Linked DNA regions of Homo sapiens: all the other regions are linked to region 4. The links come from fine-mapping of genetic effects on gene expression. A gene starts in region 4. Each other region holds a variant in brackets. All regions are shown on one strand. Distances are between the middles of the regions. Region 1 overlaps GLT1D1 (glycosyltransferase 1 domain containing 1). Region 2 overlaps SLC15A4 (solute carrier family 15 member 4). Region 3 overlaps GLT1D1 (glycosyltransferase 1 domain containing 1). Region 4 holds the start of GLT1D1 (glycosyltransferase 1 domain containing 1). Region 5 overlaps SLC15A4 (solute carrier family 15 member 4). Region 6 has its middle 12 kb from the start of LINC02441.

Evidence for each region. PIP is the estimated chance that this variant, and not a neighbour inherited with it, causes the effect.
Region 1: its variant is the best candidate, but not a certain one, in a credible set for the expression of GLT1D1 in whole blood (INTERVAL, PIP 0.65).
Region 2: its variant is the best candidate, but not a certain one, in a credible set for the expression of GLT1D1 in whole blood (TOPMed, PIP 0.57).
Region 3: its variant is the best candidate, but not a certain one, in a credible set for the expression of GLT1D1 in liver (GTEx, PIP 0.57).
Region 5: its variant is the best candidate, but not a certain one, in a credible set for the expression of GLT1D1 in whole blood (TOPMed, PIP 0.55).
Region 6: its variant is the best candidate, but not a certain one, in a credible set for the expression of GLT1D1 in nucleus accumbens (GTEx, PIP 0.74).

Annotation. Positions count from the first base shown.
Region 1 is chr12:128,945,351-128,950,401 of GRCh38, reverse strand. GLT1D1 (glycosyltransferase 1 domain containing 1) reads right to left here. Exons shown (of 12, transcript NM_001366886.1): 9 at 5,033-5,051; 10 at 2,944-3,064. Among named protein-coding and RNA genes, the nearest start is that of GLT1D1, 94 kb to the right of the region's middle. The variant G/C (reference allele first, on the strand shown) is at 2,232.
Region 2 is chr12:128,808,037-128,813,087 of GRCh38, reverse strand. It overlaps SLC15A4 (solute carrier family 15 member 4), which reads left to right. Exons shown (of 8, transcript NM_145648.4): 3 at 2,977-3,145; 4 at 3,615-3,692; 5 at 4,132-4,300. Among named protein-coding and RNA genes, the nearest start is that of SLC15A4, 13 kb to the left of the region's middle. RefSeq lists enhancers at 883-952, 2,187-2,286. The variant C/T (reference allele first, on the strand shown) is at 2,388.
Region 3 is chr12:128,902,646-128,907,696 of GRCh38, reverse strand. The region is part of intron 4 of GLT1D1 (glycosyltransferase 1 domain containing 1); the gene reads right to left. Among named protein-coding and RNA genes, the nearest start is that of GLT1D1, 52 kb to the right of the region's middle. The variant A/G (reference allele first, on the strand shown) is at 2,784.
Region 4 is chr12:128,850,776-128,855,826 of GRCh38, reverse strand. GLT1D1 (glycosyltransferase 1 domain containing 1) reads right to left here and starts at 2,349. Exons shown (of 12, transcript NM_001366886.1): 1 at 2,178-2,349. The coding sequence starts at 2,245. It overlaps LOC100128276 (a long non-coding RNA gene), which reads left to right and starts at 2,732. Exons shown (of 3, transcript NR_148996.1): 1 at 2,732-2,751; 2 at 3,475-3,634. RefSeq lists an enhancer at 1,368-2,019 and silencers at 1,881-2,080, 2,271-2,370.
Region 5 is chr12:128,817,013-128,822,063 of GRCh38, reverse strand. The region is part of intron 1 of SLC15A4 (solute carrier family 15 member 4); the gene reads left to right. Among named protein-coding and RNA genes, the nearest start is that of SLC15A4, 4.4 kb to the left of the region's middle. RefSeq lists enhancers at 1-95, 3,311-3,420, 4,061-4,140. The variant G/A (reference allele first, on the strand shown) is at 2,996.
Region 6 is chr12:128,012,447-128,017,497 of GRCh38, reverse strand. No RefSeq gene overlaps it. Among named protein-coding and RNA genes, the nearest start is that of LINC02441, 12 kb to the left of the region's middle. The variant G/A (reference allele first, on the strand shown) is at 2,204.

The sequences.
Region 1 (5,051 bases), 95 kb before region 4:
TTACATAATTGGGGTTACGGTGATTCTCAATGAGGGTGCCAATGGCATTTGGGTACAACTCTGATGCAATGAATTGATTAGAATCAATTCAGATAGCTGAAGTGTTCAATCATGGAATAAGTGTCTATCACTTTTGAAGGAAGTGATCTTTTGACCTTTCAGAATTAGCTATATTCTGGCACCTTGAACCGGCACCCCACCTCCCTGCAGCTGCTCCATCCCAAATACATGCCAGTAGCATCTTCCTAATGATGAAAACTCAAAAGGCCCTTCGCTTTTCAAAGTGGGAAAGGCCTCGCACTGCCGTATCCACACACACACTTACAAACACTTACAGACACACACACACACTCAGAAACTAGTCAAGGTTAAAGTGACACAGAGTCGCAGCTGCCTTTGAATGCCTTCACATCCCACTTCAATCACTAGGGCTGGAGTCTGGAAGCCAAGAGGCCAGGAATCCCCTCCTTCCTGCAGGTGCTCGTCTCTGCTTTAGAAGATGGGCTTCCTCTCTCTCAGGCAGAGCGTGTGTGTGTGCGTACACGTGTGTGTACGTGCGTGTGCATGTGCGTGTGTACATGTGTGTGCATGCATGCATCTGTAGGTGCATGTGTGTGAGCGTGTGTGTGTGTGCCTGTGTGTGTGCGTGTGTGTGTGAGCCTAATCATGATGGCTGGGATAAGCAAATAACTGTTTATATACTTTTAATGTAATTCTCTGCAGGATTCAACTCCGTCAAAAAGCTCAAAAGTGGAAACAACTGATTAGTTGTAGAATTGTTCACCCCGCTGCCCACGAATCCAGCTAAAGTTTGATTTTTGGAGTTTATCAGTAAGAAACGTGTTTCTGCAAATGGGACGTTTCTATGCTTCCATGGGAAAATACAGCTAATTCTGAAAGGTCAAAAGGTCACTTCCTTCAAAAGTGATAGGCACTTATTCCATGATTAAACACTGTGGCTATCTGAATTGAATTCTAATGAAATGCACCCTTACCACTCCTCTAAAATCAGTTTCATTCAAAACACTTCGCCCAAAGGTTATTTTGGAGTTTTCAAAAGGAACACAACATCAAGATTTTAAGGCAGTCAGAGTTGCTAACAGCTGCCTTTGCTTTGAAGTAAATGAGGTTTGACAGCGATTCATCCGCAGTGAAGTGCTGTGTGTGCTAGTTATAAAATCATTCCCGAATTTCACTCTACCTTTCCTTAAGAAGTTGAAAAAAAATGTATATTTACCTACAAAGGAGCAGTTCACAATAGTTCAAATACTGGTACCATAAGCATATACACTTTTAAAGCCTACATGACGAATAAAATGTATTGCCCCGAGGACTGCAGTTGGGAGGTAATTTGAAAGGACAATGGAGATTAATACTAGTGACAACCCCTAAGCAGAGGTGCTGACATCTGGCTGAGGATGATCACGTTACAAACTCACACTTTGTGCTCTGAAAGCACCTAACAGCAGATTCATGGGCACGGACACACAGCTTCTGCCATCTCCCTCTGTGTTTTTTTCTTTGGGGTCTTTTTTTTCTTTTATAAATGATGCCAAATTAAGAGCAAATATTATGCATACAACGTCAGTCATTTCTTAAATGTAAGGAGAGGATTTTTTTCCTAGTTTATTTACCATGTTCTCTCTGGACCCCAAAGGTTTGCAGATCTTAACTTTTGTCAGTAAGTTCAGTACATTCACCTGGTATCCAAGGGGATACATGGATATCCCAAAGACTTATGATAAAGTAACAGCGTGAACCTAAGTAGACACTGACATAAGAAATCTACGTATTCAGAAAGAACACATGAAACCTGGATCAAAGACCTCAGGAAGCAGTGGCCACATGTTTCCTTTCGACAGGAAAACAGGCTTTATCACGTGCCCATCAATGCTTGTTTACGCCATGTCTGTCGTGTGCAGTGTGTGTGCTGAGAACCACCAAGGGAATCAGGCTTGTGGTCCTGGGTGCTTTAATCGCATGAGGAAAACCCAGTGCTAAAGGCTGGCGTTGGTGTGAGTGAGCCCAGCCTGCCCTTTTCTGGGTTCATTCTTCAGGAGCCCCCAGGGCAATGAACTAACAACGAAACAAGAGAAGGAACATCTTTTTCTGTGAGACACATGCTGGTGATTCTCTCTAGGACCTAATATCAAGCACCGAAGATAATGGTTAAATACCCCAGTCAAAAACCTCTCAAGGAGGAGAAGAGATGTAGGTGGTCCCATTGCAAA[G/C]GGAATGCGAGGATTGCCAGGATCTTTTACAGAAGAGGGGACACAGCCCAGCCAGGGCCTGCCTGGGTTTCACGAGCACGGCCTTCCCACTCCAGCCTCGGTCCTGAAAACACAGATATGCTGGTGGGGAATTGCAGAGTGGTGCTGGGATAGACACATTTTGTCAAAAAAGATGAAGCGATTTTATAGAGCTGACTGCTAGATGAAGAGATCAGATCCACCCTGGCCCCCACGCCACCCCGTCATCTACGAACACTACCCTGCCCCTGTCTCCTGCCACCTGCAAAGTCCAGCCCTTTCTTCCCCTCCCTTAAATTCTGGAATTACAGAACATATGGAAAAGAAAGAGAAAAGATCAAGTAAAGGGAGGCTTCCTGCAAAAATACCTTCAATCTGTTTCCTGTCTCAATCTTTTGTAACCTTAGCTGCCTTCCTGTCAGAGATATTTAGAAGGTCAGAGAGGCAATGCTATCCCAGTTTTATTTTACATCGTAGCTGGCTAGGAGAGATAGCAATGAGAAATGAAATGATATTTTTAAACTCCCAGATAGAACTTCAAAAGTACTTTTGAACTCCAACAGGTATGCTGCTTGGCCTTTTTAGCTTTGAGAAGTGCAGAATGTTATTGACAAAGACGTCACCTCCGTAAATAGGAGAAGGAGTGATGGACAATTTCACACTCCCACTTTCAGTACTCGAGTTACATAATTACCTCCAAAATTGCAGCTGACATGCCTTCAGAGACAGAGCTATTCACCACCGCGAAGCAATTCTTCACCACCGCGTGCAGATCTTCTTGAGGCATCTCTCCAATCAATCGTACCCCAGCGGCTCTGAAACACAAAGCAGGAAGAGTGGCTCTGATTCCAAGAATCTCATGGGTAGGCAGCTGGGAGGAGGAGAGATGACAATTTGGGTGTAATACTCTAGATCAGCAAGTAAGCATTGTTGACCAAGCGTTCAGCCAGGAGAACTATACTGGGGTGGAAATCCTTACAGCTCATGTCCCTGACAAGGGAGGGAGGGAGTTGCTTAACATGTCTGCTTTTGTTTTCCATATGCTCCATAAAGACACCTGCTCTCAAGGACTAGAAGAGTCAGAGACAAGGTTCATGCCATTTTCTCTGCATGATTTAGAGAACATTTTTCTAATAATTCAACTTTTTTTCAAATAATTCTTTAAAATACTAATGAGACAATAAGAATAGAAATAATAGAAATAGGCCGGGTGCAGTGGCTCACACCTGTAATCCCAGCATTTTGGGAGGCTGAGGCGGGCAGATCACCTGAGATCAGAAGTTGGAGACCAGCCTGGCGAACATGGCGAAACCCCGTCTCTACTAAAAATACAAATATTAGCCAGGCGTGGTGGTGCGCACCTGTAATCCCAGCTACTTGGGAGGCTGAGGCAGGAGAATTGCTCGAACCCGGGAGGCGGAGATTGCAGTGAGCTGAGATTGTGCCATTGCACTCCAGCCTGGATGACAGAGCAAGACTAGGTCTCAAAAAAAAAAAAAAAAAAAAAAAAAAAAAAAGGAGGCCGGGCGCAGTGGCTCACGCCTGTAATCCCAGCACTTTAGGAGGCCAAAGCGGGTGATCACGAGGTCAGGAGATCGAGACCATGGTGAAACCCTGTCTCTATTAAAAATACAAAAGATTAGCCGGGCGCAGCGGCGGGTGCCTGTAGTCCCAGCTACTCAGGAGGCTGAGGCAGGAGAATGGCGTGAACCCAGGAGGTGGAGCTTGCAGTGAGCTGAGATCACGCCACTGCACTCCAGCCTGAGCGACAGAGCGAAACTCTGTCTCAACAACAACAACAACAAAAAAGAATGGAAATAGAAATACTAGAGACGATAATGTCACAAAAGCCCTGTTCCCAGCACACAGCGCTGACAGCTATTTTGTCATAGACATTTTGCCTTGTTCTATTTTTTTCACCAGACAATGTAAATCTTCGCCTTTCTTCGATCTTCCCCGTCCCCACCGCTGGCCACCACTCTCATGGCTCTGCCAGGCCTCCCTTCCCCGAGCAGGTGATACTTTTGCACACACGCGTCTGCACCTAGGAGCAATCTAAAGATCCCTGATTATAGATGGGGAAAAAACAGTCTTTGTCAGTGCCCTTTGTGGTTGGTGTGGCCAATGAGTCTGGCTGGAATCCTGGGGGGCTGTGAAGACACCACTTTACAGGGGGCTGACCCAAATAAGACCCACATCCTTCTGGTCTGCTCATTCCCATCACCCCACTTAAAATGCAGACTGATGACACAGCTCTATAGCTACCATGTCACCTTCAGGATGGGAGCCACAGGCTGAGGAAGTCAGGACAGAGACAGGAGCCAAATCCCTGAGGTCTCAGGGAAGCCTCCGTTTTGCTCCTTGAATGACCACCCTCAGACTTGTTGATGTGAGCAATGAAAGTTCAATCTGTTCAAGCCTGTGCTGTTGGGTTCCTGGCCGACAAATGCAACTTATAACCAACACACCAACAAATTGCCCTCCAGGCAGGCTGTGACAAAGGGCAATACCCCTCCATTCTTCCAAATCCTTGAGAGTTTAAATCTTTCCATTCTGGCCAATGTGATCCATTAAAAATTATAATCACAAAGTGATTTTTATTGGCCTTTCCCTGGGCAAATAATAGTGCCTAGGATGCCACGGGCTCGCCGGGAAGATGCATGAGGAAACAGTTGGAAACTGCTTGGAATAGTGCCTGGGACTGGATAAATGTGAGTTCAGGTAACCCAGGGGCCACTCAGGCTTCCCGTTCTGCAAAATGACTGGTCTCCACCAACTCTTACCTTTTCACTTTGGCTTTCA
Region 2 (5,051 bases), 43 kb after region 4:
CCTTAAAGTTTTAGTATCCGTGTGGGTGGTAGCCCATAGACATTTCTGCAAGAGAACAGCATTGTTCTGTGGACATATTTGGGTTTTAAAGCACAAATGGCAGTGTGGAGAGGGTTTGGAGTTACTTTTACTTAGGAAGCCGATTTCCTCTTAGGATAGTCTTTGAAAGTCTTCTTGGGCAAAAATAAGGGAAAAAAAAGCAGGGGCTAGCTTGCAGAAAAGTTGATGGTCTGAGGAATTCTCAGATTCTGCTGTTTGTATGAACTGGCTCTGTAACCTTGGGCAGGTTACTGATCTTGCGAAGCCCAGCTTTCCTTTTTTTACAGCGGAGATGGATTCATCTCATGGGCTCACGGTGGGGCCTGAGCACAGTGATGTGTGCAAGGCCCTCAGCAGGATGCCAGGTACATGATAAGGGCCCTGTCAGTGGTGACCACTGTGACGAGGGTGCCTTAAAAAAGGTGGGCCTCCAGGCTGGGCGTGGTGGCTCAAGCCCGTAATCCCAGCACTTTGGGAGGCCGAGGCGGGCGGATCACGAGGTCAGGAGATCGAGACCATCCTGGCGAATACGTGAAACCCCGTCTACTAAAAATACAAAAAATTAGCCGGGCGTGGTGGCGGGTGCCTGTAGTGCCAGTTACATGGGGGGCTGAGGCAGGAGAATGGCGTGAACCCGGGAGGCGGAGCTTGCAGTGAGCCGCGATCACACCACTGCACTCCAGCCTGGAAGGTAGCGAGACTCCGTCTCAAAAACGAAAAAATAAAATAAAAAAAAAAAGTTGGGCCTCCAAAGCCTGAGGAAGCATGACATACCCAACATTTTTACAGTTGTGACACTTAATTTCATCTGGCCCAATCTCAGTTTCAATCCAGGTTGATCTGTGTTTTGAAGATAATATAGTGCTTGATATTAAATGAGAAATGAAGGCGTATTTGTTCAACTCATCAGACCAGAGTAGAAATGGTTCTACAGCTTTTTGAGATACATACTTCTTTGGGAATCCGTGAGAACCAGTGGACTCTTTTCCTGGAGAATACACACACCTACATGCGGCCTTCACAGAGACTCAGGCACAGGCGTCCTGAAACTGGAGCTCGTCAACTTGTGTGGGAGGAGCAGAGGGCTCTTGTGGGTGTTCGGGTGTCACTTGTGACCGTGGCTTCGTGTTGGACCCTTGTATGTTGCAAAATAGTGCACCTAACAATATGTGTAACCCAGTAAAGCTTCAGATGCATGTTGATTTCACAGCTTTTAAATATTTTAATTACATAAAGCGAAAGTAATATAACCAGTAACCTGTGTGAATGATTCTTTGTGTGAAAATGGGTTTATTTGTTATTTAAATGTTTTTAGTGAAAGGTATTTAATATGATGTGGTAAACCACTGATAGTATCTGCATTAGGTACAAAAGGACTTTAATTTCCTTTTTGAAAAAAAGTAGTACTTGAAGAAGTTAATGTTTTCGAGTGAAAGTATTTATAATGTCTTTGGAATTTATTTTCACTTTTGGGTGTTTTTGTTTTTGATTATTTTCCCCCACTAGACTAAGTCCGTAAGGACAGGAGCCCTCCCCTTTAGCCCCCAGGTAGAGCAATGCAGGGCCTACAGCAGGTACTCGATCAGTATTTGTTGAATCGAACTTAGTTTTCTTGTCCAAAATTTGGCTAAAATATTCAGTTATAGTTTTCAGCGCTTCTATTTTTCCCCACTCTGAATGTCCAGACTTAAAATGTTGACTTTATAAGATAAAGAATTTAAAATACTGGCACCATAGTAAAATGGGACATGAGTTAATAAACTAGAAGGCTGACAGGTGCCATTTCTGTTGGCTTCCCACAGTTAAACACAATCTTATTGGGAATTAACTCTCTCCTGGTACTTCTGGCTTTAGAGAATAGTGTGCACTTTGTTTTCCCATTTTACCCCTGAGATCCTTGGAGCCCGTTCCCCATTAGAGTGTTTTGGAGCTGGGAGAGAGTGCGGAGCTGTCTAGTGGGGCCTGTTCATTTTCTAAATAATGAAGCAGGCCCAGAGCAAGGAAGTGAAACTCGTTAGTACAAGAGCTGGGGATGCCAGGTCCATGTTCCTGCTGTGACCGGCAGATGTGAGGGCAGTGGCAGGGAGTGGAGGGACAGTGGTGTCCTGCAGGGGTCAGGGCCTCAGGCTGTAAAGCCAAGACTGCCTGGGTCCAAGTCCTGGCCATACCTCAGGCACCCTTCACACTCTCTGTGCCCCGGCATCTTCCTCTGTGCAATAGGGCCCTGAAGAGTTTTAACACCACATGGTTAATGAGGGAGCACATGGGACGCGGTGCACTGGGCACTCCCTGTTTCCTACTGTCAGGGGACAGAGCCAGGGACATCCTCCTCTCATCACCACCAGCAC[C/T]GCCCTCCCCCAACAGCTCTTCCTTAATCCAAGAGCTGACAGCTTTCCTCCGAGAATAGAAGCCTGCCTCAGTCCTGCCAGTGACTCAGTTTAAACCAGCAGGGTTTTATTAACAGCATGGGTATTGGCTGTCAGGTCTTGATGTTTGATAAATTAGCTGATTAAAAATTCACACAATCCAGTGCATTTTTTCATATGCTATCCAGTGGCATAGCTAGTGTCCCTCCCAGTGTCACGTAGAGCTGCAGACTCTCCCCACACGGAGATTGCCGAGCTGGCAGCTGCGCTGGGGCTCTCAGCTCAGCCGTGGTTCACACTGTCATCACAGATCTTCCAGCCACGCCAAAATTACAGTAGCCCAGTTTCACTTTGACTAGAAAGTCCCTTTGTCAGCTGTTTCAGTACATTCTGTGACATTTAGAAATAATTTAGGTAGCTGTGTTGGGTGTGTACAATTAGTAAGTGATGGAATGAGTTGAAGCAGATTCAATACAGTGAGCTGGTTTCTTACCTCCAAACTTAATTTGTGACCAAATAATTGATTGCTGGGAGGGGAAGAAAACTAATTCCTTCATTTTATTTCCCAAAGTGAAGGCATTGGAGTCTTTCAGCAATCTTCTAAACAAAGTCTGTTTGATTCATGTAAGATGTCTCATGGTGGGCCATTTACAGAAGAGAAAGTGGAAGATGTGAAAGCTCTGGTCAAGATTGTCCCTGTTTTCTTGGCTTTGATACCTTACTGGACAGTGTATTTCCAAGTGAGTGGTGACAAACAGGTTTAATTTCCTTTATCTTCCTATGAAGTCTTACCCTAGCACTTGTTTTGGCCATTTCTAAAGTAGGTAGGACTAGGTGATTTTTTTTCCCATGAGTCTACAGAATCTTGGAATTTTTGGTTTTAGTTATGGAGTCATTTTGGCTGCTTTAACTATGTCTAAAGCCTCTCTGAAAAAGAAGCTGAGAACAGGTACGCTTCTGGTTTTTCAGGCCCCTCTTGTTAATGTAATTTCTCCTTTGGATAACTGGCCATTCTTTTTCAAAATTGATCTCCAGAGGACTTTACGATGACCAAATCATTGACCTGTCTGTTTTCAAACTTGAGCCATTGTCTATTTCTGGGAGTCACTGTGTGTCGCATCTGAGTCTAGCTTAGGGGAGGGGCAGGATGCTTAGAGTGTTTGAGAGCACAGTTGGTCCACATATAATGATACTGTTTTTTATACCTAGATGCAGACAACATATGTTTTACAGAGTCTTCATTTGAGGATTCCAGAAATTTCAAATATTACAACCACTCCTCACACGGTAAGAACAATTGTAATGATCTGAACATTGTTATTTTGGACTTATGTAATAAATGGATTCCTTCTACCAACTGTAAATCTTTTATAAATGTTAACAGCACCGACACAAAAGCATTGTTATTGAAATAGAGTTTTTACTTATTTTAGAGAATATTTTTTCATTGGTTGTATCATTTGCTAGATTAGGTTGACTAACATCAATTCAACATTACTTAGTATTTTTCACCTGATTATTTTCCCCTCAAAACACAGAAAAGCAAATGCAGATTCATTTGGAAAGAAATCTTTTCCCAGTTCCGTTGTCTCTAAACTGAAGAGGTTGTACCTTGTGGAGAGGAACTGTTCTTTACGTGCATTTCTCCCATTGAGACGTTGGTTCTCTAGACAGGTGATGGCCTGTATTGCGGGGAGTAAACGCCTCCTCCTGTGTTTCACCCCAGCTCCCTGCAGCCTGGCTGACCATGTTTGATGCTGTGCTCATCCTCCTGCTCATCCCTCTGAAGGACAAACTGGTCGATCCCATTTTGAGAAGACATGGCCTGCTCCCATCCTCCCTGAAGAGGATCGCCGTGGGCATGTTCTTTGTCATGTGCTCGGCCTTTGCTGCAGGTAAGAGGCATTCTGCTCCGTTCCTCCTCAGGCCCGACTGCAGCAGTTGTGGATTCAGAATATAGTGCTCACACGCAGTCGTGCCCCAGGTTGTTCAGGAAGTGCATGTCTGTAAAAGAGGATGTGTATCAGTTATTTTACAGCACTAATCCTTTATTTTAAAGTTTAAGATTATTTTCCTAAGGATACGTCATTTTTCTGCTGGTACTAAAACCATTGGGTTGCTCTGAAAAGTGACATTTGGACTGAGTTAAAGGGAGGTTTTTCTCTACCTACTGATTTAGAATTAGGCTATTGAATGCTGAATAGATGAATTTTTGTAAATTAAAGGTACTGTATCATCCTCAAGGATGAGAATTCCACCTTCAGATTACTAACCTTAGGTTTATTAACAAGTGTCAGGGTGCCTGCGAGTCCTTTGAATTTTTTATGTAAAATTCTGTGTGCATTTTTCTGGTGACAAAAATGTTTCTAGATTGTTACAGGCTCCTGGGCAGCATCTCCTCCCGCTACAGATAAACCTGATAAGAACAAATGCCTAAGTCTCTAAACTCTGATGAGGAGAGTTATCCTTTTGAGGATTTCCATTCTGTTTTCATAATTTTTATGTGCTGAAATGAGTTGTTTATCTTTTGCTGATAAAGCTGGGTATTGCTGACTTTCTGAATTATTTTGGAGTTCTCCCTTCATTAATATTTGAAAATTATTGACTGATGAAACAGCTTAGTTACATAATAATAAAAGTTGATAT
Region 3 (5,051 bases), 52 kb before region 4:
AAAACCCACACAGACATAAAGAACATTTGCAGTTCCATCCAGAAATCTCCAATGAGGGCTCACCTTCATAGAAGCTATTAAAAATGATTAGTGGCGGGGCACGGTGGCTTACGCCTGTAATCCCAGCACTTTGGGAGGCTGAGGCGGGTGGATCACAAGATCAGGAGATCAAGACCAGCCTGGCTAACACGGTGAAACCTCGTCTCTACTAAATATACAAAAAATTAGCTGGGTGTGGTGGCGGGCACCTGTAGTCCCAGCTACTCGGGAGGCTGAGGCAGGAGAATGGCGTGAACCCGGGAGGCAGAGCTTGCAGTGAGCCGAGATCACGCCACTGTGCTCCAGCCTGGGCAACAAAGCGAGACTCGGTCTCAAAAAAAAAAAAAAAAAAAAGATTAGCTTCCTGGGACATGATCAATCCCTGGAGCTTCTCCTGCAGAGGTGAGAGGGTTGGCACAGAAAAGAGGTAGTCTAGAGGTGAAACCCACGTGTTCAATGCATTTTTATGTTTCCAGGAGGGTGGGAACTCTAATAAAAGGTATGGTCTGTGTAGTTTCAGCTGCTGCCAAGATGACTTTCCGAGGTAATCAGACATAAAGCAATGGGGCCATGCAGGAAGAGGGAGAAGTAATAAGTAGCTCAAAAGACAGCATGCTTCTACTGCAGACTTTAGGGATAAGGAGACACGCAGCTCATTCCGATTAGGCCAGCGCTAACATCTGCACTGACTTGTGGAGCTCACCTGTACAGGAACTGCACTTGTGACAGCCAATGAGATCTGTCTTGCTTTCTATATTTTAATTTCCAAAAGAATTTTGATGAGTAAATGTACACAAAGTAAAATTACACTTTAGGTTTTGCCTAACACAGCAACTTGAAGAAGTTACTTTTCTTTCACAAGTGCCAAGGCAAAGTAGATAAATTAGGCCCCAGAAGGGGGTGACTCAAAGTTTCCAGAAAAAAAAAAGAAAAAAAAAAAAAGAAAAACCTCACTCTAAAGATAACACCTGAAAACTTAGCCTTTGCAAAGCATATTGATGGGCCATTATGAATGACACTGTGCTTTTTTTTGTTTGAATTTGATAACTGCTTCAAGCAATATTTACTCAAACAGGATTTTTTAAATATAGCTCATAAATAAATATTTGAGTTTAGATAATGTCCTCTTAGAAGAATGCTTATTAGGAAAAGAGTGTGAAAACAGGCATGAGGGGTTTTGAGCCCAATGGAGACATATTAAACCATAACCATTGCTTCTCCTGGTAGAAGCGTCCATTAAGATACACATTTAATTTGTTCGTGGGTGTTTTTTTCTTCTTGGTGAAATTTTTACATTTTCTGGTGAAATTCTGATGAATTTAGACAAAGCGCTCTAAACGTGGACTAGAACTAGAAGTACTCAAGTTTGCATCCTGAATATCTATTACATATTGTAGCAAGAAATCAAAATCCTACATAAAATATTTTCAAACTTCCCACAACATATATTTCAGGATCAGAAATGTGAAATGAATCAAATTCTTGAAAATGTCAAATCAATATTATAATATCAGAAACTGGCCAGCACAGACGCTCACGCCTGTAATTCTAGCATTTTAGGAGGTTGATGCAGGAGAACTACTTGAGGCCAGGAGTTCAAGAGTAGCCTGGGCAACGCAGTGAGACCTTATCTCCACAAAAAAAAAAAAGTCAAAATTTCAGCCAGGTGTGGTGGCATGGGCCTGTAGTCCCAGCTACCCAGGAGGCTGAGGGGGAGAGGATCGTCTGAGCCCACGAGTTTGAGGCTGCAGTGAGCCACGATCACGCCACTGCACTCCATCCAGCCTGGGCAACAGAGTGAGACTCCTTTAATAAAGAAAAAAAAAAAACACTTAAAAGATATATTATAATATCACAAACCAACATAGTAATGCCATCCCAAAACATAACCTACGTTGATCACGCGTGCTAGGCATTAACAGCCTAGCATGCTGACCTGGTGAGGAGCCCACTAGGATTGTATATTTTACAAAGTAGGTACAATGTCAAATTAAGGCTGATATAAACAACACTAAAAAATAATGACTTGAGCATAAACAAAGGCATTTCAAATTAAAAGAGATAAAACCGTCTTTACTGAAATCCAATCAAACTAACTTGTGAAGGTCAGCCAGAGATAGGTAGGCGATCATAAACCCAGCTCCCAAGACAACATTTCCACAAGAGCAGCCCTGGGGGCTGAAGTTCACTCACCGGTTACAAACTAACCCTCACTGGGCACATGTCCGTTCATGTGTCCTCCAGGATCAGATATCGTGTGAGTAAGTTTCAGAAATCCTGAAACAGAGCTGCCCTGAGCACACAACAGCCCTCGCCACACGTGGCCACGTGGCTGATCCAGGGCACGTCTAAGGCCCTGTTTGAATTAAGATGTGCTGTGAGTGTAAAATACACACAGGATTTCAAAGACTTCACACACAAAAAGGTAAAATATGATGTCACTAGTAACTTTCATATTGATGACATATAGTGGGTGTGTACTAGGAAATTCGGCCTTGACCAAACAGAGGCATGACCTGCACCCTTAGCTTCTGGGAAACGGCGTAAGTGGTGTAATACCTGACAGCTGAGTGTTTAGGGTGGGAAATGGGCCAGGCGCGGTGGCTCATGCCTGTAATCCCAGCCTTTTGGGAGGATGAGGTGGGCAGATCACTTGAGGTCAGGAGTTCGAGACCAGCCTGGCCAACATGGTGAAACCCAGTCTCTATTAAAAATACAAAAATTAGCCAGGCATAGTGGCAGTC[A/G]CCTGTAATCCCAGCACTTTGGGAGGCCGAGGCAGGTGGATCGCCTGAGGTTGGGAGTTCAAGACCAGCCTGGCCAACATGGTGAAACCCCATCTCTATTCAAAATACAGAAATTAGTTGGGTGTGGTGGTGGGCATCTGTAATCCCAGCTACTTGGGAAGCTGAGGCAGGAGAATCGCTTGAATCCGGGAGCCGCAGGTTGCGGTGAGCCGAGATCGCACTACTGCACTCCAGCATGGGCAACAGAGAAAGACTCTGTCTCAAAAAAAAAAAAAAAAAAAAAAAAAAAAGACTGTTTTCATGCTTTAACCATCACCTGGACACCAGTGACTCACATGGCTGTGTCCCCAACTGTGCCCTCCTCTGAGGACAGTCCTACATTCTCAGCTCTATTCTGGATATTTACCCGAGTCCAATATTTGTCACTAAGTCAATACATCCAGAACCAAATGATTCAGTTCCTCTCTTTTTCCCCCTCCAAATTCTATTCCTTGATTTCTTCCAAACTGTATTGATAAAAATGTTAGGTTGTATGAACGCTCTTAAACCCCTCTTTATTTCTTCCTTACTGACTGTGGTCTGCCAATACAAAAGTTACCTGTACCACTGTGTTTATGTTTTTTAAAAAAAGTCTTTATCAAAGTACATTTGCAGGTAAAATGGCACATAATTATAGGTGAAATGGCATGATATTGGTAATTTTTGAAATTATTCTCGAAAACATTGTATGTGTGTGTGTGAGTGTAGGTGTGTGTGTGTATTCAGGAGGAAGTAGAGTAAATAAGAATTGAGGAACAATAAACTGGGTCATGGGCACATAAAGGGCTCACTCTACTATTCTTGCTACTTCTACACATGCCTGAAAATTTCTTTAATTAAAAGTTCTGGCCGGGCACAGTGGCTCATGCCTGTATCCCAGCACTTTGGGAGGCCAAGGCGGGCGGATCACATGGTCAGGAGTTCGAGACCAGCCTGGCCAACATGGTGAAACCCCGTCTCTACCAAAAATACAAAAATTAGCTGGGCATGATGGCGGGAGCCTGTAATCCCAGCTACTCAGGAGGCTGAGGCAGGAGAATAGCTTGAACTTGGGAGGCAGAGGTTGCAGTGAGCTGAGATTGCGCCACTGTACTTCACCTTGGGTGACAGAGCAAGATTCCATCTCAAAAAATAAAAATAAAAATATTTAAAAAAACCAAAAGGTTCTAAAGGAGGAGTCGTTCCTAATCAATCAATTTAAAGGATATTCACCGGGCCTGAGACAGTATATACTATTCTCCAGGGATGCACGAGTGACTACCTCATGTCCCTTTCTCAAGAAGCTCACCACTTGAGAAGCACGGGGAAGAAAGTAAAACATGTTATACTCATTAGAGACAAGCATGAAGTGTGGCAGATGGTTACAGAGGCCATCAATTCTCCCCCTCCCTGCATCCGTGCCCTTGTAAGGCAGCATTAAAGATCCTCTCATTATGAGGTGGGGACCGTATCTCCACCCGCTGAGTTGCTTTGGTCAATGGGAAGGAGGCAAGCTTATCACAGGCAGAGGCCTGGAATGTGCTTGTGAGTTGAGGCCCGTTCTCTCTTCCTGCCGAGCCTAAAACAGGATGACAGACCCCATGGAGACAGGCCTCAGGGGTCCCCACCATCCCAGCTAAGGTCCAGGCATGGAAGTGAGGCCACCCTGCGTGTTTAAGGCAACTGGTTTGTTAAGCAGCAAAAGGTAACTGACAGAGGAAGGGAACTCATCTATGCCAATTCTGGAGGGTCAAGGAAGGATTTATGGTGGAGGATGATATTGAAGGCTGACAAGTTAGAGAAAAGGGCAATGAATTCATGGAAAAGGAGCATGCTTCCACAGGTAAAATATTTCTTTCTTTTTTTTTTTTTTTGAGACGGAGTCTTGCAGTGGCACCATCTCTGTTCACTTCAACCTCGGCCTCCTGGGTTCAAGCAATTCTCTTGCCTCAGCCTCCTGAGTAGCTGGGACTACAGGTGCACACCACCATGCCCGGCTAATTTTTTGCATTTTCAGTAGAGACAGGGTTTCGTCATGTTGGCCAGGCTGGTCTTGAACTCTTGACCTCAGGTGATCTGCCCGCCTCAGCCTCCCAAAGTGCTGGGATTACAGGTTGAGCCACTGCGCCTGGCAATTATTTCTTTAATGTCTGTCTTAACCAACACAGTTGGGTTCCCACGTTTGCTGTTTCATTTAATTTGTTGCAATATGTTGTTTTGGTTGAGGTCTATAAAGAAAATCCTGCCTCT
Region 4 (5,051 bases):
GAGCTGAGACCCCGCCATTGCACTCCAGCCTGGGCGAAAGAATGAAGCTTTGTCTCAAAAAAAAAAAAAAAAAAAAAAAAGGCAACCAGCAGCCCTTGGGGCTGCTCTGTCTATGGAGTAGCCAGTCTTTTATTTTTTTACTTTCTTAATAAACTTGCTTTCACTTTAAGGACTCGCCCTGAATTCTTGCTTGTGCAAGATCCAAGAACCCTCTATCGGGTTCTGGATCAGGACCTCTTTCCGTTAACAGTTTTGTTTTATTTTTTAGAGTTTTGATCTGCCACCCAGGCTGGAGTTCAGTGGTGCAATGTCACTTCGCTGCAGCCTCAACCTCCTGGGCTCAACTGATCCTCCTGCCTCAGCCTCCTGAGTAGCTAGGACCACAGGCATGCACACACCACATCAGCTAATTTTTAAATTTTTTTTTGTAGAGATGAGGGTTTCACCATGTTGCCCATGCTGGTCTTTAACTCCTGGGCTCAAGCAATCCTCCCATCTCAGCCTCCCAAAGTGCTGGGATTACAGGCTTGAGCCGCCATGAAAGCCTGCCCTAGGTTTTTTGTTTTTTTTGTTGTTGTTGTTGTTTTTTTTTTTTTTTTTTTTAGATGGAGTCTGGCTCTGTCACCCAGGCTAGAGTGCAGTGGCGTGATCCCAGATCAATTGGCTCACTGCAACAGCTGCCTCCCAGGTTCAAGCGATTCTCCTGCCTCAGCCTCCTAGTTTTGCTTTCTTAATAGCACTAATCCCTATGTGAAATCACCTCCTTCATTCCTCTCCCATACTGGGATGCTGGTTCATCCAACAGAGCCAGGAACACAAAGGGCTCCTCACTGCTAAACCCAAGCAGAGCATCACTGACCTATTTAATAGAAACCTGCACCATGAAACCTGAGTGTAAATTTTCCAGCAAATTTCAGAAAACTGATGGATCCTCTCTTGGTCATTTCTGCTTATGATCTTTAGGAGAAATTAGCTGAAAGGGACATGAAAGTGTTGGTGGAGTCTCAATTGCTCATTTTAATGATGAGGAGGCCGGGCACAGTGGCTCATACCTGTAAACCCAGCACTGTGGGAGGCCGAGGCAGGCGGATCACCTGAGGGCAGGAGTTCGAGACCAACCTGGCCAACATGGTGAAACCCTGTCTCTATTAAAAATACAAAAATCAGCCGGGCGTGGTGGTGCACACCTGTAATCCCAACTACTTGGGAGGCTGAGGCAGGAGAATGCTTGAATCCAGGAGGCGGAGGTTGCAGTGAGCCCAGATTGCGCCACTGCACTCCAGCCTGGGTGACACAGCGAGACTCCATTTCAAAAAAATAAATTGATGGGGAAACAGGCCCACAGAAGGGAAGTAAATCGGGAAATTTCATGAAGCAAGTCCGCTTTTACACACACACACACACACACACACACACACACACACACACACACGGCTTCTGTTAAGCTGCAGGCTCTAATCCTGGCACTTCCCAGGCTTCGCCTCAAGGAATATGTTTATCCGGCTAATACAGGCCGAGCGCCCGCTGTGCGGGTGGGAGGCGGCGGGATTAACGCGGCGGCCCCTCCCCGGGCCCCCGCCGGGCTTGCGTTCCAGCGACCAGAACACAGACCAACAAGTAAACAAATAAGACAAAGGCAGAAAAAGATGAGTGTGAAGGAGCTAACCAGCCAGGAAGACGAGAATAGACAGGGCAGAGGGGAGGTGGGAAAGGGACTTCGGGGACAGGACCCCGGACGCCGGCACACAGCCGAGACCCGATCCGCGAGGGCAGGGCTGGCACCGCGGTCCCCGGCCTGGAAACGCGCCCCCGCCGGGAGCTCCGCGGACCCCGCTGCGCATCCCTGCGGATCCTGCTCCCATCCTGCTTCTGCAGCGAGGCCTTCCCGGGCCCCTCCACGACAGGCTCCGGGCCTGTTCACCTGCTCAGTCCCCTCCGGAGAGCGCGAGGCCAATGCGCCGGCCGCACGGAGACCCGGGGACACGCGCGCCACGCAGAAGGCACCGACCCCCGCGCGCCCGGCAGGCGGCACCGGCCCATCCGTTTGTGCGCGCGGCTCGGGACGGCCCCGGCGCGGCTGGAGGGGGCCTGGCTGAGCGCCCCGCGTCCCCGGGTCCCGCGTCCCCGCCCCCCGGCCCCCGGCCCAGGCTTCGTAGGCCCCGGCGCCCTGCACCTACCGAACGCGCTGGGCCGTGACCGCGTTGCCGGTGTGTGGCCGCAGCACCGCCAGGAACAGGAGCCGCATGCCGCCGCCGCCGCCCGGGCCATCGACCGGCCCCGCCGCCGCCGACCAGGCCCCGGGGCCGGCGCAGACGCGGACGGCGGGGGAGCCGGGGCGGCTGGGTCTGTCCCGCCCGCCCCTCCCCGAGGCCGCGCCCCAGCTCGCAGGTTCCGGCGCCAGGCGGGGAGGGGGACAGGAACCGGGGGCCTCGGGCGGCGCGAGCCCTGGGTGCGGGGTGGCGCGGGTGTGCCCCGTGGGGTCCATCACCAGGGTAGCCGCGGTCTGTTTCCACCTGGACCAGGACCAGCGGTGACCACAGTCCCTTCCACGGGGACCAGGACCATCGGTGACCACAGTCCCTCACACGGGGACCAGGACCAGCGGTGACCACAGTCCCTCCCAAGAGGACTAGGACCAGCAGTGACCACGTTCCCTTCCACAGGGAACAGGCAGCGGTGACCACAGACCATTCTCACGGGGACCAGGACCAGCGGTGACCACAGTCCCTCCCAAGGGGACCAGGACCAGCGGTGACCACAGTCCCTTCCCACAGTGACCAGGACCAGGGGCGGCCTTGGTCCTTTCCCACAGGGAACAGGAGCAGGGGTGGCCATGGTCCGCTCCCATGGAAACCAGTGATGGCTTCCATGGGCTTCATTGGGAAATCAGGGCTTCACGGAACACCGGGTTGGCTGCAGGTCTGTGCCCACCGGGACCAGCAGAGACCTCGGGTTCCGTCCCACAGGGTGCTGCAGAGAGGGGCTCTCAGCCTCATTTTCCATGACAACCTGAGTGGGGCCTTGGTCCGCACGAAGCCCAGGATTCCTTTCTAGTCCCATTCCAGGGAACGTGGCATGATCAGTCCCAAATTCCTTCCCAGGCTAGACTACCCTAAAACTAACCCGAGGAGGGGAACATGGGGACTGTGTGAGGAGACAGTAGAAACCCATTTCAGGGCCGCACCTGTCGGGTGAGAAAGATGTTGGAGAGGGGAACCTGGGGTTCATCAGGGTACATGGGCTGCACCTGGTCTGGATCTCCAAACTAGGATACCTTGAGTGAGAGAAATAGGGAACTGAAGGAGGCCTCTGGCAAAATGCCATCTGTGGATTTAAACAAGCACTCCCCAAAACAGCTGTTAAGTGTTTACAAAGATGCACATGTATTTACAGATGTGGGACATTCTAGTGGGTGCCCAATATTTCCATTGACCTTCAAACTTGATTTTCTGTCATCCCCTAAATACCTTCCAGCCTCAAAAAGGTAAAGTGGGAATGAAGAAAGCCATGACATGGGATAACCACCGTCAGTGGCAGGTCTCCGGCCTCCCTACGCAGCATGGTGACCCCCAGGCTTATCAAGATATAAAAGTCCATCCTGGAGGGCACATTCGGCTCCGCAGGCTTCTCCCAGGTACGTCCACCACTCTGCCTCTCAGTGTGGCATGGAGTAGGGAAGAGTTGTATATCATTGTAGAACAATCAAAATCCTGTCCTCCTCTCACTCTCAAAAAAACACCCAGGATTTTGCTCTTCTTCCTGGTATTTCAGCTTCCCAGGCACCAGGCAGGCAGGCCACATCCTTTTTAAAGGACAAAAGCGATCTGAAAATATTATCATTCTGCTAAACAACTTAATACTTTCCAACAGAATTACATAAGCAAACAGGAAAGGGGACAAGTTGCACAGAGCTGTCACAACCCCCTTCTAACGACATTTTAGAAAAAGAGTTTTGACCCCGGGCACGGCGGCTGACTCCTATAATTCCAGCACTTTGGGAGGCCGAGGTGGGTGGATCACTTGAGGCCAGGAGTTCAAGACCAGTCTGGCCAACATGGCAAAACCCCGTCTCTACCAAAAATAGAAAAATAGATGGGCATGGTGGTACAAGCCTGTAGTCCTAGGTACTTGGGAGGCTGAGGCATGAGAATCATTTGAACCCAGGAGGCGGAGGTTGCAGTGAGCCGCGATCATGCCACTGCGCTCCAGCCTAGGCAGTAAAGCAAGACTCAGTGTTAAATAAATAAATAAGTTTTGAGTGGACTCCTGATATATTTGCTACACACCAAGAAGAGGCAATAAAACGCAGTGTCTGGTGTGGTATACAGAAGTAGAGGGGGGCACTTGCCCATGATCTTCCCCTATTTCACCTTGCCCATGGGATATTAAAAGCTAAATGTGAACAGATACATTTCTGATTTTACAAAGGCGACTTCAGCATGAGCCCAGAAAGGAACCTCCCTAAGGAGAGTTGAACTGGCAGCCTTGTGGGCTCAATATCATCCTTAGATGTATTTAGGCTACACCGTGTTTTTCATAAAAGCTGAGCTATTATTTTTTGTTTGTTTTGAGACAGTGTCACTCTGTCATCCAGGCTGGGGGTGCCGTGGTGTGATTATGGATCACTCCAGCTTCCACCTCCTGGGCTCAAGTGATCCTCCCATCTCAGCCTTCCAAAAAAGTAGCTGGAACCATAGATGTGCACCACCATGCTGGGCTAATTTTTTGTATTTTTTGTAGAAGTGGGGTCTCACTATGTTGTCCAGGCTGGTCTTGAGCTCCTGGGCTCAAGCAGTCAACTCACCTCAGCCTCCCAGAGTACTGGAATTACAGGCGTGAGCCACTATACCTGGCCAAGCCACCATTTTTTAATTGGGAGCTTTCATATAGAAGTTGGAATTTCTGATATCTGTTAAAAAATGAGAGATCTGATTAAATGAAGCCACCATCCTGTGGCTGACTGAAGCTGGGAAGCAGCTGCCTGCTTAAGATGAAATCTGAATGTGCCATTTCACACAGTGCTTGAAGGCTCACTTCAATTCCTTGATAAC
Region 5 (5,051 bases), 34 kb after region 4:
GAGTGTTAAAGCGTTGGGGATACAGTCGAGAGCTTTACTGGGTTCCAGCAGGGAGTGATTTGTGCAGAGCAGGCACTACAGCTGGGGTAGCAGGTCAGGTCTGCTTCTTATTTTCTGAGGATTCACAAGCTAAGAATGGTTCTTAATATTTTCTTTCTTTCTTTTTTTTTTTTTTTTTTGAGGCGGAGTCTCGCTCTGTTGCCAGGTTGGAGTGCAGTGGCGCGATCTCAGCTCACTGCAACCTTCACCTCCTGAGTTCAAGCGATTCTCCTGCCTCGGCCTCCTGAGTAGTTGAGACTACACGTGCACGCCACTGTGCCCAGCTAACTTTTGTATTTCTAGTAGAGACGGGGTTTCACCGTGTTGGCCAGGATGGTCTTGATCTCTTGACCTTGTGATCTGCCTGCCTCGGCCTCCCAAAGTGCTGGGGTTACAGGCATGAGCCACGGCGCCCAGCTAGTTCTTACATTTTTAAGTGGTCGGAAACGGGATCATTTGTGACCAGTGAAAATTTTATGAAAATCAAATTTCAATCTCCATAAATAAAGCGTTATTGGAACATAGCCCCACCTGTTTCTGCAACACAGCCACTACACTGGGGCTGCTTTCACTAAGCAGTGGCAGAATTGAGTAACTGTGATGGAGACGAGATGTCTCATAGAACTCAAAATGTGAACTGCCTGCCCCTTCACAGAAGTGTGCGGATGCTTGTAGAGAATGGGTTGTGTAGGAAGTGGTGACATTAGGGACATGAGGTGGGAGTCTCTCCTAACTAGAGTGGAGGCAGTGGAGGTGGGTGAAGTGGATGGATGGAGTTCAGCTATGGAAGTAGAATGGGCAGGAAGTACTGGCAGGTTGTCTCCCTGTTTGTGTTCCTATGTAGGAATACCTGAGGCTCAGTCATCTATAATGGAAAGATGTTTCTTTGGTTTAGGGTTCTGCAGGCTGTACAAGAAGCAGGGCGCCAGCATCTGCACTGCTGAGGGCCTTGTGAATGGGAGCCAGCTGTGTAGAGATCACATGCACTAGAGGAAGTGAGAGAGGGGAGGGAGGTGCCAGGCTTGTAAACGACCTCTCTCATAGGAGAGTTCACTCCTGTGACAGCCCCAAGCCTTTCTTCAGGGATCCGTCCCCATGACCCAAACACTAGGCCCCACGAGAAGCACTGGGGATCACATTTCTTCATGAGGTTTGGAGGGTCAGATATGGAAACCATGGCATGTGAGCAGTAGGGAAGGCGACTCTTAGGCTTTTGCCTAAGTATCTGTGAGTGCCTGTTTTTTAGGAACATTTACTGAGAGCTTACTGTGCACCAGGCACAGTGCTTGCTAAGTACCTAAGTACAGTATCTGGTTAGTCCACATGACACGTATGCTACATGTCTACATGTCTACACGACTACTTAGTCTACATGACACGTACGGTGCCCATTTTACTGATGAGGAAACTGAGGCTTGAGAGGTTTAATCATTGGCCCAAAGTTACACAGCTTGTATGTGACTGAGCCAGGATTCAAAAGCCTGTCCTTTGAATGTGAGCTTTCACTCTGCCTGTGTAAGGCTATCCGTTACAGTCAGGAGACACCTTAGAATGACGTTAGAAATGATAGTTTCTAATGTACTGAATTGGAACTGGGTTTTTTGTACAGTGGCGTATGCTTTACATATGTGACGAAATCTGAACCTCACAGGAGTCTTAGATCCACTTTACTGATGAGGAAACAGGCACAAAAACAGATCACTTTCTTACTGCCTGTAGGTAGTGAGTGGTCAAGCTGGACTTCTATCCCAGCTCTGGTTCTTTTTTAGCTACCACACTAAGATGGGCCCAGTGTGCGTGCGTTCCGTAATGGTTCTGCAGGGCTGGATCTCAAGGCCCAGGCTCTTGGCCTTGGGGTGCCATTGGCTCATGAAGGAACGGGGCTGGTAGCACAGTCAGCCTCTATCTTTTAAAGACTTGGCCACCCCACACAGGTGTACTGGAAAGCTTCTATTATGCCTCTTACTTGTGCCTTTCCCACGTGATCTTATTTAAGCCTCGCCACAGTTGCTGGTGTGTGTGCTGCAGTTAAGCCTGTTGTCCAGGGAACAGAGGCCTAGAGGGTTAGCTCCCAAGGCTGCACAGCAGGTGCCTAGGGGAGCTGGTTTGGGGCCCTGGCAGCCTGACTTAAAAGCTGGTGCTCTCCAGGATATAACAGGCGAGTAATTGATACTTCTTAAAATGAGGAGGAAATGGTGCTCGGTTATCTCAGATGAATCTGACAGAATATGCGCTCTTTCATCCATAATTAAATGTGGATGTTGAAAGGAGATGTGCCTTCTTCCGAAAGATAGCTGGCCTGATCTCTTCCGACGTAATGCTGTCATGTTAAAAGAGGACCTTGTGGATGAAAGGCTACTCGGGAGACCTGGCCGCCCCCTGCAGCGCGTGCTGAGTGATTGGATCCCAGCTGCTTTCATGGCCGTTCTTCTTGGATGCTTGGGATAGTTTGTAGACCGCCTATTAGCTAATAATGGACCAATGTTGCCTTTCTTAGGTGTGGTAATTTCACTGCCGTTAAAAGAATGTCCTTATTTCCAGGAGATTCATGATGAAATTTTGGGGGTGAAATTGGTTGCTGGAGCTTATTTGTATGTAGATCACCCAGAAGTATTTTTTTTTAAGACCAAGTCTTATTCTCTTGTCCAGGCTGGGGTGCAGCGGTATGATCTCAGCTCACTGCAACCTCTGCCTCCTGGTTCAAGCTATTTTCCTGCCTCAGCCTCCTGAGTAGCTGGGACTACAGGTGTGAGCCACCACGCCTGGCTAATTTTTGTATTTTTAATAGAGACGGGGTTTCACCATGTTGGCCAGGTTGGTCTCGAACTCCTGACCTCAGGTGATCCACCTGCCTCGGCCTCCCAAAGTTCTGGGATTACAGGCGTGAGCCACCGCGCTCGGCCAGTATTTTTTATGTATAGAAAAAAGTGCTGAGGCTCCAAGTGAAGGGTAGAGA[G/A]GTGTGCATTTTGCAATTCAACTTTTCTATACATTTGGAATTTTTTTAAATGAAAGATAAGAAAATGTTCACTGATGAATGTATAAACTAAATATAGTATATCCATACAATGGCATATTTTTCAGCCATTAAAAAAGAAATGAAGTACTGATGAGCCTTGAAAACATTCGGCTGCATGAAGGAAGCCAGACACATAAGGCCCCAGTTGTGTGATTCCATTGATGTGGAATGCCCGGAAGAGGCGAGTCCACAGAGACTGGAAGTAGATTAAGGGTTGCCACGGGCCAGGAGAGGGGCGTGGGACTGACTTAAAGGGAACAGGAGTTCCTGTTGGTGTGATGAGAATGTGGACTTGGATGGCAGTGATGGCTGTACATCTCTGAATATACTAGACACTACTGAATTGTACACTTTTGAAGGGTGAATTTTATGGTATGTGAATCATAGTGAAAAAACATTTGAAGGGAAAAGTACCCTTATGCCAGGGTGCTTGCCCGTGACCAGGTGGCAGGTCCCCCTCCAGGTGCGGCTGCTTCATGGCAGGAGGCCTGGCTGGGGACCCTGAGGTGTGCAGGCCTGAAGTACACTCTGTTGTGCCCCAGGCGAGGGTTAATTTGTCCTGGTTTGGTCCTTTTCATTTAGAGGAAACCTGTTTGTATTTTTAAGGTGCTTTTTATGGTTCTTTGTCACTTACCTCTTCATCTCCCAGGTAGAGCCTCTGGGAAACATTCTGATAGGAGAGACAATGGGGTGAGGCTGCATAGCTTTGAGAAGGAGGCCTAGTTGGCTTCTGAAAGAGGATGTGTGAGCTGTGAGTCCAAGGGAGACGTATGTTCGTGTAAATCATGTCAGGCCGTATCTTCCCCCAGTGTTTCACCTTTTTCAAAGGTCACAATCGTTCTTGGTGGATGGATTATTTGAAATAGTGACCTGAAAGACGAAAATCTTATGTTACAGATGAAAAGAGCAAATGATGCATTTTTTTTTTTTCTAGAGGAAAAACTGACACCCCATTTTAAGGAATTCTTCTGTCAGCCAACTGTTTGGTATGCTGTACACAATTCTATTCTTTTAGCTTTTCTTCTCCAAATTGATTTTGGTGGTATCTTTTGGCCAGTCATGTGAAAACCTTGTTTACCCTTGGTAGGGCACGTAGCTGCAGCTCACACAGTGATGTCATGCAAACGATGGGCAGGAGGTTGTGGCCTGCTCGCCAGGGGCTGGGAAGCATGTGATGTCCCTTCACAGCAGCCAGGTTCCCTTGGTACAGAAATGCCTGCTGTGTGGTTATTTAGGGCTTAGTAATTTTGGCTTATAAAGTAATTTTGATGGATTACTCTTGGAGTTGGAATAAATTGACCACCACAATTACACAGGAAATGAGGATGAATGGCATTTTAAGGTTAGGATTTTCCCAGAGTAATCAAATGCTGATATTTTCATGCTTCATCTGAAGAGGACATAAGTCTGAGACTGTGGGAAGATATGTGCAGTGTCACTGTGGGTAACGGGAAGGCCCGAGTGAGACCGTGGGAAGGTGTGTGCAGTGTCACTGTGGGTAATGGGAAGGTCCGAGTACATTTCAGTTAGGAAATCATTTGTGCCTCTATTAAGTTTATATACTATGTTTACTGGCCTCTTTTATGCTTGTCAAAAAATTACTTTTTGTTTGTTATTTTTTCGCACTTCTAGTTTTGTTTTCTCAGTAACCATTTCTCTGCTCACATTTTTCATTTTTCTTCCTGGTCCATGTCTAGTATAGCATGAGAATTGGTGTCCACTGTTGAGCAATATTTAAATGCATTGTGTCCTAGTGAAGAAGTGTCTTAGATGTCTGTGAAGTTCTCACCTCAAACTCTTTATTCAGTAGAGATGTCTGCATTTGGTCTAGGACCTCTGTTCAGTATTGTAATAGATAAGAGAAAAGTTTAAACTCTTGAGAATAAGTGATTTTCTTTTAAATTTAGATTTTTCGTTTGAAGTGGTGTTACTATATATAATTAATTACCTGCCACCATAGTGGCCATGCTTAATCATTTGGACTTCAAACAAATCT
Region 6 (5,051 bases), 840 kb after region 4:
AGACTTGTACTCTCAAAAGTACAAAATACTGCTGAGAGAAATTAAAGAACTGAATCAACAAAGCTATGTAATATTTCATGCTCAAGGCTGTCATGCTTCCATATTAAGATATGAAATATCCCCAAATAGATCAGTAGATTTGACGAGATCCCAATTAAAGTTTCAGAAGATGTTCCTTGTAGAAATTGCCAAGCACATTCTAAAATGTATATGGAAATAGAAAGCACCAAAACAATCTTGGAAAATGAAAATTGAGCACCCTAAAATTTACAATAATCATTGTAACGTATCTCAACCTACTTTCAAATAATATTGACATTTCATGTGTGTCTGAAAATGTACAAGGGCATACTTCTGTTCCTCCCCTCTCATCCTTTGTGCTATTTCTTGCTACATTTTGCTTCCACAAATATTATAAATGCTTTAATTTATTTATCTTATTTATACTTGAAAAAGTCAATTACCTTTTGCATTAATTTAGAAATTAGAAAATAGTTACATTTATATTTACCAACCTACTTACTTCCAGTACTTTTTATTCTCGTGTGTAGTGGATCTTTTCCCCAAAAGAATTTCCCTTAGGGTATTGCCAATCTGCTTCTAATGAATTACTTTAACCTTTGTCTGAAAAGTCTTTGGCCTTTATTTCTGAAAAAGGTTTATAGTGCATATACAATTCTAAGTGACGGGATTTTTCATTTCCTTATAGCTCTGTACTTTAAAGATGTTACTCTTTTTTCTTTTGGGCTGTGTGGTTTCTGATGAAAATTATTTCCTAAGTATGTTCTGTAGAACATAATTTATATACACATAGATTTTCTTTTGCTGTTTTTTTTTTTTTTTTTTTTTTTTTTTTTGAGACAGAGTCTCGCTCTGTTGCCCAGGCTGGAGTGCAGTGGCGCGATCTCGGATCACTGCAAGCTCCGCCTCCCGGGTTCACGCCATTCTCCTGCCTCAGCCTCCCGAGTAGCTGGGACTACAGGTGCCCGCCACGCGCGCCCGGCTAATTTTTTGTATTTTTAGTAGAGATGGGGTTTCACTGTGTTAGGCAGGATGGTCTCGATCTCCTGACCTCGTGATCCGCCCGCCTTGGCCTCCCAAAGTGCTGGGATTACAGGCGTGAGCCACCGCACCCGGCCCTTTTGCTACTTTTAAGATTCCTTTTTATTACTTGTTTTCAGAAATTTTATTATAATGAGTCCCAATGTAGTTTTCTTTATGTTTCTTTGGCTATGGGTTTATTTATCATTTTGAATCTATGCTTTACAGTTTTCATAAGATTTGGAATTTTTTAGCTCTTATTTCTTCAATTATTTTGGATTCTTACTTCTCTCTTTTTTGGACTCCAATTGCATTTAGAAATTAAATATATGATAACCACACAAATATTTCAGTGGAGGGGGTAACAGCTATATAGATACTACAGAAGAAGAAATTACTTTTCTTCAGCCATCAAAAATTATACGTGTGCATCCAAAGAAAAAGTTGCAAAATGAAGCACAGAGATAAATATGTCTTTTTTTAAAAAAGGCAAAACAAAAAAACAAAGCTTCAGTGCCCTTTGAGGCAGTACAAAGCAGTTTAATACAGATTCCTTTTTTCTTCTCATTACATTCATATTCTTCATTAAATCCTTGAGTAGACTCAGTATGTTCACTCTTTTAATGCTCATATCTGAAGATGCCATCATCTCTATCATTTATGGGTCTGTTTCTACTGACTTATTTCCTTCCTGTGTTTAGGTCATGTTTATCTGCTTCTTCATATGTCTTGTAATTTCTTAATTGAAAGCTAGACAGCTTAAATTTTGCATGGGCATATGCTAGATTTTCTGTATTTCTTATGAAATACATTGAACTTTATTTTTTATATCAGTTTGATGTTTAAGTCTTGTTTTAAACCACTTTTAAGACTTGTCCAAAGTACCCTTTAATCTATAGCTAATTTAGGTCTGCTTCTAAGGTGTGGCTCTTCTCTACTGAATGCCTTATGTATAAACAAAACGATTCCCAGCCGTTTGTGACCTCTGGTCATTTTCATCATACAGCTCCTTTGTGAACTCTGGTCATTTTCATCATACAGCTCCCTGGCAATTTTAATTTCCCCAGAAGTTTTTCTTTATTCAACCTGTGAGTTTTTTCCCAATACATATGGAGATTTTTTATCAGCCGAAGGCTCAAGTGTGCCTGTGTGCACATTTTTG[G/A]AACTCCTGCTTTGCACAGCTCCTTCCTTCCAGGTGTTCTGTCCTGTAAGTCCCAGGAACATCAGCCTTCCCAAAGTCCAATCTCTTTCTCCTCAATTCAGTGAGAACAGGAGGCTCTGTTTGGGTTGACCCTCCCTGCCCTGCAGTCCAGAAATTGGGAGTGATAGATCTCATCTTATTTGTTTTTCTTTTTTCAGGTATCGTAGTTTTGCCCTGCCTGTTGTCCAATTCCAGAAAATTTGTTTCCTATAAGTTGCCCAATTATAAGAATAATATTTTTCAAATTTGTTCACTGTAAAAAGGTGATTCTGGGCTGTGTTTCCCTCCTATGGCCAAGACATAAATTTCCCTTCTATTTATGCTCAACTATAAAAACAACTTTCTATGTTTTATCCTCCCATTTTCTTCTTCCTCCTTGTTATTTACCTTCTCCCACCTCTGTCTTACCATTGTCATGACCAACATTATTACAAGCATCAGCTAATGTTTTTTCCAGGTGCTAAGCCAAGCATGTTACTTGCATTTTAGAATTTACTTCTCTTGCAGGGTAAAGATGAATAAATTCTGTGGACCTAATGTACAGCATGGTGATTATAGTTACTAATAATGTGTTGCAACCTTGAAATTTACTGAGAGTAAATATCAAATGTTCTCATCATAGGCGCGCACACACGCAATGTAACTGTGTGAAATGATGCACGAGTTAATAGCTTGATTATGATAATCATTTCTCAATATATATGTGCCAAATCATCGCATTGGACACCTTGAAAATATACAATTTTTATTTGTCAGTTATATGTCCACAAAGCTGAAAAAAAGAAAAACACAAAATTTAATTCTAACAACAGCCCTAAAACTAGGCTGCCAGAAACCCCTTTATCTTAGCCCTCCTGATACGTGTGGTCATATCTCATCATTCTCAGCCTTCCAGCCAACGCTGCAAAGATGCTGGTTTAACTCAGTCTCCTAAAATGCATGAATATGTGCCCCTCTGGTCAGTTGGGGGTCTTTTTAGTTACATCTTATTTTATTTTATTTTATTTTTATTTTCATTTTTATTGAGATGGAGTCTCATTCTGTTGCCCAGGCTGGAGTGCAGTGGTATGATCTCAGTTCACTGAAACCTCTGCCTTCCAGGTTCCAGTGATTCTCCTGCCTCAGCCTCCCTAGTAGCAGGGATTATAGGTGCCCGCCACCATGCCAGCCTAATTTTTGTATTTTTAGTAGAGACGGGGTTTCACTATGTTGGCCAGGCTGGTCTCGACCTCCTGACCTCAAGTGATCCATCCTCCTCGGCCTCCCAAAATGCCAGGATTACAGGCGAGAGCCACTGAGGCTGGCCTACAACTCATTTTAAAGCTATTCATCAGGCTAAACCTGGCTCAGGATTCTGCTTGCTCTTCATATCCTCTAAGAATCTTCCGTGGTGGTCTTCATGTTCTCCCCTCCCACCCTCACTTTGCTAGGTTGAATTAGGCACAGCTACATGCACTTTGTATCCCAACCCATGCACAGCCATAATTCCTGTTGTTTATACCAGAGACTACTCTGTACTTCCTCCTTTCTTCCCTCAGAACGTCAGTGTGTGAGGTCCATCAGCTTCATCTCTTTGTTTCCAATGCCCAGCACAATGCCAGATGAAGTGGGTGTTAGCTAGATTCTAGCTGTATTAATGGATACATGCATAAAAGGATTCACTTTTCTCACTAATAGTCTTAGCTTCATGGAACCAGCGTCATTCACATTCACTTACATAGCCTACTCAATCGGAATCTGCTAACCTCCTTGTCCTTAAATACAGAAACAGTTTCCATATTCCTATTGTACACAATTGGTGCTCATTAATGCTCTCTTAATCCCCTGAGAAGTGGGAACCATAAAATCCAATTGAGCAATTGAATCTCTTTTCCTTCTAGCTCGCGCTGGAGCCAGAGGGATGGAGATATTAAAAGTTCCCTGAATCTCATTATCAGCTCAGAATTTTAAGTGTGTGTCCATGCCTCTATCACCCCCTGGAGCATCACGACATGAGTGAAAGCCCAGTGCTTCCCAGGTCACACAGGCTGGTCCCTTATTTTGTAGAGGGTTTAACTGACACTCAGACTGTGACATTCTCTAAGGTCATGTGATAACTTAGTCGCAGAACCAGGATTAGAGCCTATATCCTTCCTGCTTAGCCAGCATAAACTTCCTTCTCATTTGAGTCCTAACTTGGCTCTAATTTCATCTGATTTCTGCATGCATTTTGATATATATCATTTATTAATTCATTAATTCATTCATTTGATAAACAATAAGTATTTTATCTGTTATATATGCCAGAAAATACTCAGATAAACAAGAAACAGACTCTACTGTCTTCTTCAACTATTCAGCTTCTATTTAACATTGCTTCAAGCTTTTATTTATTTCAACATCATCATTTTTTAAAGTTGATACATACAAATAGAGCATATCTGAGTCTATACAGTGGCTAGTTCAAAATTGATCTGAATTTTATCTACATTTCTTAGTTTCTGATTTCTTTTTCTTTCAGCTGAATGACTGACATTTACTCCAAAACTTATTTTACTTAAAATGAATGCTTGATTTTTAGTATTTAGAAAAATATGAAATATATAAAATGCCCTCTGGTATACTTGAATTGAATTTTCTTCCTATCACAAACATTGAATTCTTTTCAAAGCATAGTTTAATATGCCTGTGCAATCGTGCACAATGATATATTCTAGGTTGGCCTCATGAATGAATTTTGAGACAATATCCTATTCCCAGCACTATCACATTGTATAGGGAAACAATTTTTAACTTTGTATTTGATTGATTAACCTTAGTGTTTTGAAAT